Linked DNA regions of Homo sapiens. The protein of the gene in region 1 interacts with the protein of each later gene in a pairwise test. Each region holds a gene or a part of one and is shown on either strand. Other genes may lie near its edges.

Region 1 (7,028 bases):
GATTTTTTTTTTTTTTTTTTTTGAGATGGAGTCTCACATTGTTGCCTGGGCTAGAGTGCAGTGGTGTGATCTTGGCTCACCGCAATTTCCACCTCCTGGGTTCAAGCGATTCTCCTGCCTCAGTCTCCCGAGTAGCTGGGATTATAGGCATGCGCCACCACACTCGGCTAATTTTTTTGTATTTTTAGTAGAGATGGGGTTCTCCATGTTGATCCGGCTGGTCTTGAACTCCTGACCTCGTGATCAGGACCAGCTCGGCCCCCAAAGTGCTGGGATTACAGGCGTGAGCCACCGTGCCTGGCCGACTTCGAATTTTTTAATAAGAATTTTTTGGCCGGGCGCAATGGCTCACACTTGTAATCCCAGCACTTGGAGAGGCCGAGGCAGGCGAATCACCTGAGGTTGGGAGTTCCAGACCAGCCTAACCAACGTGGAGAAACTCCGTCTCTACTAAAAATACAAAATTAGCTAGGCCTGGTGGCGCATGCCTGTAATCCCAGCTACTCCGGAGGCTGAGGCAGGAGAATCGCTTGAACCCAGGAGGCAGAGGTTGCGGTGAGCCAAGGTCACACCATTGCACTCCAGCCTGGGCAAAAAGAGTGAAATTCCATCTCTCAAAAATATAAAAGAATTTTTTATTTGGGTCTAAAAATTTAGAATTTAGAATATGACTACCAACTTAATTTCTTAGTCTTTGTTTCAGATAATATATCTCAGTGGAGTATTTAGAGTTTAAGAAGATGAGTAATCATGGAGCTGAGTACTTGATAAGTTTGAGAACATGTTCATGATCATTGTGGGGATATGACATTTTTTACCTCTTACCATATATCGATTCTCACCCACCCCCCATTTTTTGAAACAAGGTCTTGCTTTGTCACCCAGGGTGGAGTGCATGGCTCACTGCAGCCTCGACCTCCTGGGCTCAAGCAGTCCTCCCACTTCAGCCTCCCAAGTAGTCAGGACCACAGGTGTATGCCACCATGACTGGCTAATTGTTTAATTTTTTTGTAGAGATGGGGTCGCACTGTGTTGCCCAGGCTGGTCTCGAACTCCTGGGCTCAAGCTGTCTCCCTGCCTTGGCTTCTCAAAGTGCTAGGATTACAGGCATGAGCCACCACACTCAGCTGATTCCCTTTTTAGTAAATCTACTAGATCTATGACTTTATTTGTTAATAATTAGAGTAGCACCATGTTTTTAAGTGATTAGAACTCTTGAAAATGAATATCCACACTAAATTCCATTATAGCAAAGAACTAATTTAGAAAATGTTCATAATGAGAGTTTTGATGGCGATTTGTTTTGAGTAGTGTTGAAAGGCTCTTAGAGTGCATGTGAAGGGATGAATCTTTTGAGAAAAGAAAGATAGTAGACATTTTCTGAGACATAAAATAATCCAGATTTATTCCACCAGACAGCTTTACAGTGTATAGTATTTTAAGAGCTAACTGCCTTCAGATTCACTGGACTTTTCTGTCCTTTTGCCAGGTACTGACTTGGGCAACAGCAGTGACTACAAGTGCCATACTGACCAATTGGAAGAGTCTTTGCTTATCGGAGCTGTTCTAAAAGGCTTATTAGTTTTTGGTCTTCATTCTATTTAATGTTTTCATGCCTTTATAAACTTTTTACTTCCAGCCCAATTTTTCCCATTGTCTTGGTACAGGTCAGCTGTGTCCAAGTTTGTTAGGGTTTCAGCTAGCCAAAAATGGTATTTTCATTTGCTGAAATTCTAAACAAAATAATTAAAGTTAAAGCACAGATGATGATGCTACCTTATTTTTCTACATGTGGGAAAGCTTGATTGATAGTAATGATTAGCGCCTGCATCTCACAATCACTGAGAAATGAATGCAGCACTGAGCTCTGTTTGCCCTCTAAGCTTGTCCCCAGAAAAAACAAGATATACCCTAAATAGTAAGTTATAATATTTTTATTAGGGAACATTATTAGAGTTTTTTTTTAATATATCTCGTAGCCATGTCATATTAATCTTTTTTCTTTTTTCCTTTTTTTCATTTTTCTCTTTTCTCTTCTCTTCTCTTCTCTTTTCTCTTTCTCACTCTGTCACCCAAGCTGGAGTGCAGTGGCATGACCATGGCTCACTGCAGCCTTGACCTCCCAGACTCAAGCAATCCTCCCACTCCAGCCTCCCAAGTGACTGGGACTACAGGCACGTGCCACCATGCACGGCTAATTTTTCTATTTTTTGTAGGGGCAGGATCTCAGCATGTTGCCCAGGCTGATCTTGACCTCTTGGACTCAAGCAATTTTCCCTCCTGTGCCTCCCAAAGTTCTAAGATACAGGCATGAGCCACCACACCCAGCCTAGAGAATCCTTAATGTTTGAAGTCTGTCAGGCTATCATGGTGCTCAGCAGAGGATGTGTTAGTATTCTGAGAATAGGACTTCTAACTTTAGTTTTACCTGAGATTATTCTACACCTAACTTGAAACTTTTGGAGTATTAAAGGTTCAAAGAAGTTAAGAGAAAAGCAAAGCTTGATAAACTGACCAGTTTGTGTCCTGCTAAAGCATAGACAGTTTTACCATGCTCTTCCCAGTGACATGAATATTCTTTGGTTAGCATTCAATTTGGTTGCTTTCTTTTTTGTTTAATCAGGCACTGTCACCACTGTATTATTGTCATCATTTTGCTTATTGATTTTGCTTATTGTCTGCCTTCCCCTCTGTGTTGTAAGCTCCATAAAGGCAAGAAATTTTTTCTGTTTTATTCACTGCTTTAAGCCCAGTTTCTAAAACAGTGTCTGACACGTGGTAGGCACTCAATAAATACCTGTTGAATTATTACTAATTCATTTTGTAGACTTTCATCTGTAAGATGACAGATCTGAATCATCTGAAATCTCCATCTCCATAAAACATATAAGCTGGCTGGGTGCAGTGGCTCATGCCTGTAATCCTAGTACTTTGTGAGGCTGAGGCGAGCAGATTGCTTGAGCTCAGGAGTTCGAGACCAGCCTGCGCAACGTGGTGAAACCAGCTCTCTACTAAAAATACAAAAAATTAGCCAGGTGCGGTGGTGCACGCCTGTAATCCCAGCTACTTCGGAGGCTGAGTCAGGAAAATCGCTTCAATCTGGGGGGCGGAGGTTGCAGTGAGCCGAGATTGCACCACTGCACTCCAGCCTGGGCAACAGAACTAGACTCTGTCTAAAAAAAACACACAAAAAACACACAAAAAAACATATAAGCTGAACCTCCCCTGTGGGGTGGAGTCAGTTTGACTCACCTCAGAGTTGTTTGAAGAGAGAGGTTCCCAAACAGTTTTACCATAACCTTAGTTCACTGAATGTTTTGTGGTAGAAACACTGACTAGTAAGTTCAGTAACAATGCATGGCTCAGATTGTGGAATATTTCTGATTTAAATGTAATCTGTAGTACTTCACACTTCAGATTTTTGAACCTTTTAACCTACAATACTGGGCTTCATTTCTGTTATGCCCTAATCTAGTCATGCTGAATATCCATACTGTATAATGGTAGATGCAAACCATGTTTACTAAATTAGAACTACATATGAATTACAGTTTACTTCAAGTGTTTTGTTTTGGTAATATAGCTTTGCCACCAAGCTTTTACAGTTTTCCTTGAATGTACAAAGACTTTTTATTCTAATAACCAGATTACAGTTATACTATTTCTAAAGCTCAGCTCTTATTACATCAAGTTTCAGTGATGTGTTGAAGTAGGGGAACTTTATATGGCATTTCAAAACATTTTCATAATACTGGAATTTTATTTATTGTAAAATATTTTTGTCTTTAATAAAATAATTTTGAATGAAGTCATAATTTTGCTTTTATCTGGTATTTGGATGTTTACATGAAAAAGGGAACATAAGCTGAATAAAGGTAATCCCAAAAGAACTTCTCTGTCACATTTTCCCAGTTACTCATTCATGCTCAAGGCATTGCTGTCCTGAGCCTACTTAGGTCTCAGCTGACCAAGCTGAATCTTTGATTCACTTATTTGGGGCTATTTATTTAAGACCCACTTTGTCCCAGCTCCAAAGATACAACAGTATGCAAGAAAGACAGCGCCCAGGGTGGGCGTGGTGGCTCATGCCTATAATCCCAGCACTTCAGGAGGCCGAGGTGGGCAGGTTGCTTGAGCCCAGTAGTTTGAGACCAACCTGGCAATGTAGTGAGGCACCAGGTCTGTAGAAAGTTTAAAAATCAGGCCAGGCGCGGTGGCTCATGCGTGTATTCCCAGCTCTTTGGGAGGCCGAGGCAGGCGGATCACGGGGTCAGGAGATCGAGACCATTCTGGCTAACACGGTGAAACCCCGTCTCTACTAAAAATACAAAAATAAAATTAGCCAGGCGTGGCGGCGGGTGCCTGTAGTCCCAACTGCTTGGGAGACTGAGGCAGGAGAATGGCGCGAACCCGGGAGGCGGAGCTTGCAGTGAGCAGAGATCGCGCCACTACACTCCAGCCTGGGCGACAGAGCAAGACTCCGTCTCAAAAAAAAAACAAAAAAAAAAAAAAAAGAAAAGAAAGTTTAAAAATTAGCCAGGTGTGGTGGCATGTGCCTGTGGTCCCAGCTACTTGGGAGGCTGAGGTGGGAGGATAGCTTGAGGCCAGGAGGTCAAGGCTGCAGTGAGCCACAATTGTACCACTGGCACTCCAGCCTGGAGGACAGAGGGAGACCCTCTCTCAAATACAAACAAACAAATAAATGAAGTAAGAAAGCACCAGCCCTTGGGATATTTGTTTTGATCCTTTTCCCCAGTAAAAATTTGTTAGAGTGGGAAGTTAGAAAACAGTGTGGTAGATTGATGGCTACTATGGTATTAACTGATAAGACTTAACGTATTACTTTGAGAAGGATATTTTCTATTTTAAAAGTAATTCTGGAGTTAACTCTGTCTTTTTTTTTTTTTTTTTTTTTTTTTTTGAGACAGTTTCACTCTTGTTGCCCAGGCTGGGGTGCGATGGCGTGACCTCAGCTCACTGCCATCAATGTCTGCCTCCTGGGTTCAAAGGATTCTCCTGCCTCAGCCTCCCGAGTAGCTGGAATTACAGGTGCCTGCCACCACGCCCGGCTAATTTTTTTGTATCTTTAGTAGAGATGAGGTTTCACCATTTTGGTCAGGCTGGTCTCGAACTCCTGACCTCAGGTGAGCCACTGCACCCAGCCAAGTTAACTCTGTCTTAACCAAAGAAATCAATTTGCACAGTACAATATTGATTTAAATGACAAGTTAGTACAAGAGATTTTGGAGGGGCCAGGCGTAGCGGCTCACACCTGTAATCCCAGCACTTTGGGAGGCCAAGGCGGGTGGATCACTTGAGGTCAGGAGTTAAGAGACCAGCCTGGCCAACATGGTGAAACCCCATCTCTTCTAAAAATACAAAAATTAGCTGGGCTTGATGGTGCCTGCCTGTAATCCCAGCTACTTGAGAGGCTGAGGCAGGAGAATGGCTTGAACCTGGGAGGTGGAGGTTGCAGTGAGCTGAGATTGCGCCATTGCACTTCAGCCTGGGCAACAAGAAAAAGACTCCGTATCAAAAAAAAAAAAAAAAGATTTTGGAGGGGGTCCACCTTTTTCAGTACCCTTTAGTTTAGAACATCACAGCTATTTATTTGTACATGGGACAGATTCTCCCTGTGGATAGAATAGAATAATTCTAGTCTCATTTTTCAGATTCAGGAAGGGCCCATTGCATCTCCTAAAAATCAAAAAAGTCTGGCCACTAGTTTTTTTCCTTTTCAGATTGTGAGACTAACAGATTTATAGAGGCAGTCTGTGCTCTGAATTGTTCAGCTTACAGATTGAAGTCTATCAACCCTTTATAGTATCAGGTTATTTGTTTTGTATAAATTATTTTGCTTTTGTTGATTAGCTCTATCAAAGAATAAAAAACCTCCCAAGATTTCTCAATCTTACCGCCCTTCTTTATGCTTTCTCTGTACAATGGAAAAGTAGACCAAAAGTATTTGTCATGAAAATTTTTTATCATTTGCAGTTTGTGGCATGATATGGCTTTTCTGTTTCACTGTTGGCAGTTTTATGCATGTCCTGTAGGATAACTTGATCGTTTTGTTACATATTTATGTGTGTATATATACATCCTGTGTGTGTATATATATATTTATGTAATTTAAAAAATAAAAAGCATGCTGCTTGGCTTGGCTAGCTAATGTGTAATTGTACCTGGTAAACAATTTTTTTCTTTGAAATTCTGATCATAGAGGGATTGAGCTCTCTTTGCTCTGATGAGCCATCTTCAGAAATTATGACTTCTTCCTTTCTTTCATCTTCTGAAATACATAACACTGGCCTTACAATACTACATGGAGAAAAAAGCCATGTGTTAGGGAGCCAGCCTATTTTAGCCAAAGAAGGAAAAGACCACTTGGATCTTCTAGATATGAAAAAGATGGAAAAGCCTCAGGGGACCAGCAACAACGTATCAGACTCTTCAGTTTCTCTTGCAGCAGGAGTTCATTGTGACCGTCCTTCTATTCCAGCCAGTTTCCCAGAGCATCCTGCTTTTCTCTCAAAGAAAATTGGTCAAGTGGAAGAGCAAATAGATAAAGAGACCAAGAACCCAAATGGGGTATCAAGTAGGGAGGCTAAAACTGCATTGGATGCTGATGACAGATTCACTTTGCTGACAGCCCAGAAACCACCTACTGAGTACTCTAAGGTAGAAGGCATTTATACATATTCTTTGTCTCCATCCAAAGTTTCAGGAGATGATGTTATTGAAAAGGATTCCCCTGAATCACCATTTGAAGTAATTATTGACAAAGCAGCATTTGACAAAGAATTTAAAGACTCATATAAGGAGAGCACAGATGATTTTGGTAGCTGGTCTGTGCACACTGATAAAGAATCATCCGAAGACATTTCAGAGACTAATGACAAGCTTTTTCCACTGAGAAATAAAGAGGCAGGACGTTACCCAATGTCTGCATTGCTCAGTAGGCAGTTTTCACACACAAATGCAGCACTGGAAGAGGTGTCCAGATGCGTGAATGATATGCATAACTTTAC
Region 2 (7,028 bases), on another chromosome or scaffold:
ACACCATGAGGCTTCATTTGAACCACAGCTACATAAACCAGAGCCCAGCCTAATATGAGCATTTTTTTATTTTTTTATTTTTACCATTACTGCTACTATTATTTTTTTATTTATTTATTTATTTTAATTATACTTTAAGTTTTAGGGTACATGTGCACATTGTGCAGGTTAGTTACATATGTATACATGTGCCATGCTGGTGCGCTAGATATGGAGTAAAATACCAGAAGTTGCTTAAAAAAGTAGATGCCTCTGTTATTATAAGCTTTGTATACTACTTACTTTTAAACCGTATACATAAGATTGAAATAAAAATAAGATTTAAAAACTGTATTACAGGCCAGGCGCAGAGGCTCATGCAAAATCCCAGCACTTTGGGAGGCCGAGGCGGGTGGATCACAAGGTCAGGAGATCGAGACCATCCTGGCCAACATGGTGAAACCCGTCTCTACTAAAATACAAACAAAAAAATTAGCTGGGTGCGGTGGCACGTGCCTGTAGTCCCAGCTACTCGGGAGGCTGAGACAGGGGAATCGCTTGCTTGAACCCAGGAGGTGGAGGTTGCAGTGAGCTGAGATCACGCCACTGCACTCTAGGCTGGTGACAGAGCAAGACTCCGTGAAGTTAGGAGTTCAGTCAAGACCAGCCTGGCCAACATGGTGAAACCCTATCTCTACTAAAAATACAAAAATTAGCCAGGCATGGTGGCAGGCGCCTGTAATCCCAGCTACTCAGGAGGCTGAGGCAGGAGAATCGCTTGAACCTGGGAGGCGGAGGTTGCAGTGAGCAGAGATTGCGCCATCGCACTCCAGCCTGGGGCACAAGAGCGAGACTTTGTCTCAAAAAAAAAAGTATTATAACAAAGTATACAAATAAGAGTAATTATGGATCAAGGTAGAGATGTCTCGCTCAAAAGTCCTGAGGCCTTTGCTTGATCTTCTCTCTCTGAGAGATGCTGTTGGAATCTAAATTGCTGATGCTGCCATCAGGCTATTCTGATAATGTCACTGAAAGTGGTATCTCTAGGCTTAAGAATTGGAGCAATGAAAATGTGAACAGTGACTGCCAGGGAATCAACATTTCTAGGGATGCTCATTAGAAGTAATGACTCACAATTCTGTTAACCATAACAGCAGGTATCATCCTAACTCACGGCACCTACATATATGCCCTTACTGTTCTCTTCCTCTCATTTCCCACCACTTTTGTATTGGTCTTAATACTGATCTGAAGCATAATTGTTTTATGTAATAAATTTTATTCTATGTTTTATGCTTCCTGGGCTTCATTTCAAAAGCCAGTGAAATTAACTTTAACTCTCTAGCATTTAAACCGTCAAAAACAATTAAGTAAACATTCAGTGGTATAATTTTTCCTGGTGTGTATTGTTTTATTGCTATTTTTGTGTTTAAATCTTTACCAAACAAGCTATCATATTACTTATTTTATGAAATGGATTTCGGAAGACAAGATTCGATCCAAGAAGATTATTTGGTCATTATCTATACTGTTGATAACAGATCTCTAAGGTTCAAAGTAATACTGTATACTAAAAAGGGTTCTGGTCCTATATAAACTATCTGGTGAGGTGATTAGCCTCCAATTCACTATTAACTCTAACTGAACAAGAATCCTACCAAATATCTGTCAAGACAAGGGGATCCCATACCTACCCAGAGTTCTGGTTCCCATTAATAAGACACATACTATGGAAGATATATCAAAATAGCATAATACTTGTATAATAATTGCTCCTATTTTGACTACCTTCATTCAGTTCGTCATTTTGCTTTTAAGGATTACTGTCCAAGCATGGCATAAAAAAGAAAAAGTGGTTGGATACAGTGCTCATGCCTGTAATCCTAGCACTTTGGGAGGCTGAGGCAGGAGGACTGCTTGAGCCCAGGAGTTTGAGACCAGCCTGGGCAACATGGCAAAACCCCGTTTCTACAAAAAATGCAAAAATTAGCCAGGTGTGGTGGTATGCACCTGTGGCCTCAGCTATTCAGGAGGCTGAGGTCGGAGGATCACTTCAACCTGGGAGGCAGAGGCTGCTCTGAGCCAAGATCGCACCACTACACTCCAGCCTGGGCAACAGAGCAAGAGCCTGTCTTAAAAAAAAAAAAAAAAAAAAAAAAAGGAAAAGAAAAGAAAAACAAAGCAGGAGGATCTTGAGGCCAGGAGTTTGAGACCAGCCTGGTCAACACAGCGAGATCTCATCTCTACAAAAAATGTTGAAATAAAAAAAAAAGAAAGAATCAACACTTAGGTTGCTTCCTCCTTTTTGACTGTTGTGAATAATGCTGCTATGAACAGGGGTATACAAATCCCTCTTTGAGACCTTACTTTTAATTATTTTGAGTATCCCAGAAGTGGAACTGGGACTAAAAGCTAAATGCAACAAAGGCAGTTCTGGTATTACACTTAATACAAATGCATTTAATCTTATAGTCACCTGGGATTCAACAGCTCTTAAGAGTGTTTTTTAAAAAATTAGTCTTGTTAAATTTTAAGAAAAGCAATATCTTTAATTATAATATTAACATCAAATATTTTTATTTTCTTTCAGTGTTGGCATTGCGATTTTCTAGTGTCTGAAAACATTTATCTCTCATGTAACATTCACGTCTTATTTCAGACAACTGATCTCTTTAAAATCCTGTCAAATCAATGAGTAAAACTGGCCCACTACAAAAACATTACTACTTACCAACCTCATACCCATTAAAATGGCTATTATCTAGAAGGAAAAAAAAAACAAACCCAGGATAGAAAATAACGAGTGTTGGCTAGGATGCGGAGACACTGGAATCCTGGTGCTTTGTGGGTGGGAATGTAAAACGGTGCAGCCACTATGGGAAAACAGTATGGTGGCCCATTAAAAATTAAAAATAGAATTCCCATATGACCCAACAATTCCACTTCCGGGTATATACTCAAAATAACTGAAAGTAGGGTTTCAAAAAGGTATTTGTATACTCACATTCATACTGGCATTACTCACAATAGCCAAAAAGGTGGAAGCCACCTATGTGTCTATTAACAAATGAACAAACGAAATGTGGTACATACATATAATGGAATATTATTCAGCCTTAGAAAGGAAATTCTGGGCCAGGCACAGTGGCTCAGGCCTGGAATCCCAACACTCAGGGAGGACGAGGCAGGCGGATCACGAGGTCAGGAGATGGAGACCATCCTGGCAAATGCAGTGAAACCTTGTCTCTACTAAAAATACAAAACAGTAGCTGGGCGTGGTGGCAGGCACCTGAAATCCCAGCTACTTAGGAGGCTAAGGCAGGAGAATTGCTTGAACCCAGGAGGCAGAGGTTGCAGTGGGCCGAGATCGCACCACTGTACTCCAGCATAGGCAACAGAGCGAGACTCCATCTCAAAAAAAAAAAAAAAAAAGGAAATTCTGACACATGCTACACAATGGATGAACCTTAAGGACATTATGCTAAGTGAAATAAACCAGTCATAAAAGGACAAATACTGCCACTTCATGAGGCATCTAGAGAAGTCAAATTTATAGAGACAGAAAGTAGAACGGTGGTTGCCAGGGGCTGGGAGGATACAGAAATGGGGAGTTGTTTAATGGGTACAGAGTTTATTTTTGCAAGATGAAAACGGTTCTGGTGATGGATGGTGATAACGGTTGTACAACATGAATGTGCTTATTGCCCCTGAACTGTATACTTAAAAATGGTTGAGATGGTAAATTTAATGTTTTATTTTACCACAATTTTTAAAAATAATGAAACCACTATTTTGCATAGGAGCCACAGTGATATGTCATAAAACTGTAGCAAGAACATATTCCCTCAAAAATCTTACGTAAAGAATTTGGCTGGGTGCAGTGGCTCATGCCTGTAATCCCAACACTTTGGGAGGCCGAGGCAGGTGGATCACTTGAGGTCAGGAGATCAAGACCAGCCTGGCCAACATGGTGAAACTCTGTCTCTACTAACAATACAAAAATTAGCCGGGCCTGGTGGTGCATGCCTGTAGTCCCAGCTACAAGGGAGGCTGAGGCACAAGAATCACTTGAACCTGGGAGGTGGTGGTTGTGGTGAGCCGAGACTGCGCCACTGCACTCCAGCCTGGGCAACAGAGTGAGACCCCATCTCAAAAAAAAAAAAGAATTAAATCAAGGTCTTAATGATCAAATTTAATACATCTCTGGTTGAAAAGACAGAGGCACAACACTTTACTAGGTTTGGTGAGCAAAAAGAAAACAACTTAGTAAAGAAGGATCCCCTGCACATACTACACTCATAGGCAGAAGGTGCTCCTACCTCCCCCATTCATCCTCCCTTTGGGTATCTCCTCACTGAGCCCTCCCTGGTTGCCTCTCCTATAGCTCAAGTTCATCACAGACTCCCCAGGGGCACAACCCAATTCCAAACCAGTTGGTGTTTCTAGAAAGACTCATTCTAATGCTATCCTCTTTCTCAAAACTCTGTGTTCCCACCTATATCCTATTCCCTGAATGCCCTAAAACCCATTCTCTCAACCAGACTTCTTCACAGGACTAGGTCCAAATTCCACCTAATCTGAAGCTCTAATCCACAGCACAATCTACCAGAGCCCCATATCTTCCAAAGAATTCTCTTCTACCAGCATGTTCTGGTCCTAACTCAGCTATGTATGCCCAGCCCTAAAATATTTCAGAGTGCATAAAAACTACCAGGATAGCTAGTTAAACTTGCAGATTTCCACCGCTCATCCCCAGAGATTTTCACTCAGTAGGCCTAATGTGGGGCCCTGGAATACGCACTTAAAACAAGCATACCAAGTCATTTGATGTAGCCTAGCACTAACCTAGGCTAGCCACGTGAGCCTAGGTAAGCCTGAACTAGCCTGAACTCCCAGCCAACTAATGCTTTGGATACAAACCCCATATTGTCTGTGCTAAAACTCATGAGAATAATCTGAGCTGCCCTACACCCTTCCCTCCACCGGGAGACTTCTGTGAATAATATGAATGTTCATTATATTGAACAGATTATATGTGTCTGTATCACAAGGTAGCTTAGGTTACATCTGTTTTCAAGGTTGGATCATATCTGCCCTGACTGATGACCTCACAGTTATGAGACTCTTTTAAAAATGGCAATTTCCTGAGGAAACAGTACTCTTCAGAGGCATGCTGCAGCCTGATGCAGTAACTAAAGGATTCCCTGCCTTACACCTAGTTTCAACTGACCTTTTAAAAGAAAAAGAAAAAAAAAGAAGAAAAAATGCTTTAAATGTATCCAATAATTTTGCACCTCTAACTTTCCACTGAACCTTTTAGAAAGTTATTATGAGCTTGAGGTCTGAGGGGCCTAAGAAGTGCCCAAACCACATTTGATGTCATTTCCCTGCAAAGGAAATGTGACACCTACGCCGAACTGCCAAGGTATTTTAGCTTATATACAGGGATAGATAAGCTTCTTAAAAATTACATTTCCAGTCTAATTATTTTGCAATTTCAAATTTATCACTGTCTGACATTATCCATGCCTATACAAATGGCTTAAAAAGAAAAATGGAGCCTAACAGGATATTTAGAACTGCCTGGAAGTTTAAAAAGTATGAATTTTAAATTCTGAGCAAATCAATATTCTGTTTTCCACATTAAACATATGGAAATTAATATGGACATGTCAACTATATTTGGTTGTAAGTGACTCATTTCAATACCTGGCATGTCTGAGGACTAATGCGAGAGCAATCTGGTAAGAGAAAAAAAGGTCATATGGATAATGCAATGAAATGGAAAGATCACTGGACTCTGGACCAGCCGTATTCCAAGGCTAGCTCTACCATGGCTTGGCTGTATGATCTGACTTTGTGGCCAAGGGCAATTATGAGACTGTTTTCAACAATGACAGGATACCTATCAACCTATGACCTCACAGAGACACTGGGAAGACAATATACATGAAATGACTTTTAAGCTGTGTTTCTTCAAAACGATACATTCCAAATTACCCTAGACTGTGTTCTTTTTGCAGTGCTAGTACGTGGTCTATACTGGAAAGTTCCTTTCATTTACTCAGTTGATTCACTGAGGAGCTGCTCTGCACAAGGCTCTATGTTAGGTACTGAGGAGGACTAGAGAAGAAAATGTTAAGGTGTAAACTGGTTGGAGAAACAAAGTACAGCCATGTGCCATGTAACAATGCTTTGGTCAACGACAGACTACACATATGATGGTGGTCCTATAAGCTTATAATACCGTATATTTACTGTACCTTTTCTTGTTTATGTATGTATACATACACAAATCTTTACCATTGTGTTGCAACTGCCTACAGTATTCAGTACAGTAACCTGCTGTACAGGTTTGTAGCCTAGGAACAACTGGCTATTCCATATAGCCTAGGTGTGTAGTAGGCTGTACCATCTAGGTTTGTGTAATTATACTCTGATGTTTGTACAAAGAAGTTGCCTAACATATTTCTAACATATTTCTCAGAATGTATCTCTGTCAGTAAGAGTCACATAACGGTGTACATAATGATTTCATTTCTAAGTGACAAAATGAGTGGTTCAAACAGTACTATGGATTGACCATTCTAGCTTTCCATCCTCTTGTCCATGAGAAAGTAAATGCACTGTAAACTGATCCTAAGAGACAGAATACATAAATCATGTAAACATTTGGTGTCTAACCCTGTTACAATAATTTTTCATTTTTGGCTTTAAAAACTGTTACCAGAACTCAGTGAAGGAAAAGACATGGAAAGAAAACATTTCTCAAAGAAGGTACCTATGAGGTACACTAAGTACTTCATCTAAACTCTCTTTGGGCCAGGCATGGTGGCTCATGCCAGTAATTCCAGCACTTTGGGAGGCCAGGGTGCATGGATCACTTAAGACGAGGAGTTCAAGTTTCAGCAACATGGCGAAACTGAAAAACAGAAAAAATCAGCCAGACATGGTGATGTGCACCTGTAGTCCCAGATGCTTTGGGGGCTGAGGTGAGAGGATCACTTGAGCCTGGGAGGCTGAGGCTGCAGTGAGCTGAGCTCACACCA

Evidence for each region. The genes of interacting proteins can lie anywhere in the genome.
Region 2: the proteins of RTN3 (region 1) and SACM1L interact in binary tests that used the Homo sapiens proteins (3 or more experiments, as listed by UniProt).

Annotation. Positions count from the first base shown.
Region 1 is NC_000011.10:63,712,482-63,719,509, forward strand, and holds part of RTN3 (reticulon-3), read left to right. Parts: intron 1-6,220; coding exon 6,221-7,028. UniProt on the Homo sapiens protein: May be involved in membrane trafficking in the early secretory pathway. Inhibits BACE1 activity and amyloid precursor protein processing. May induce caspase-8 cascade and apoptosis.
Region 2 is NC_000003.12:45,692,381-45,699,408, reverse strand, and holds part of SACM1L (phosphatidylinositol-3-phosphatase SAC1), read right to left. Parts: intron 1-7,028.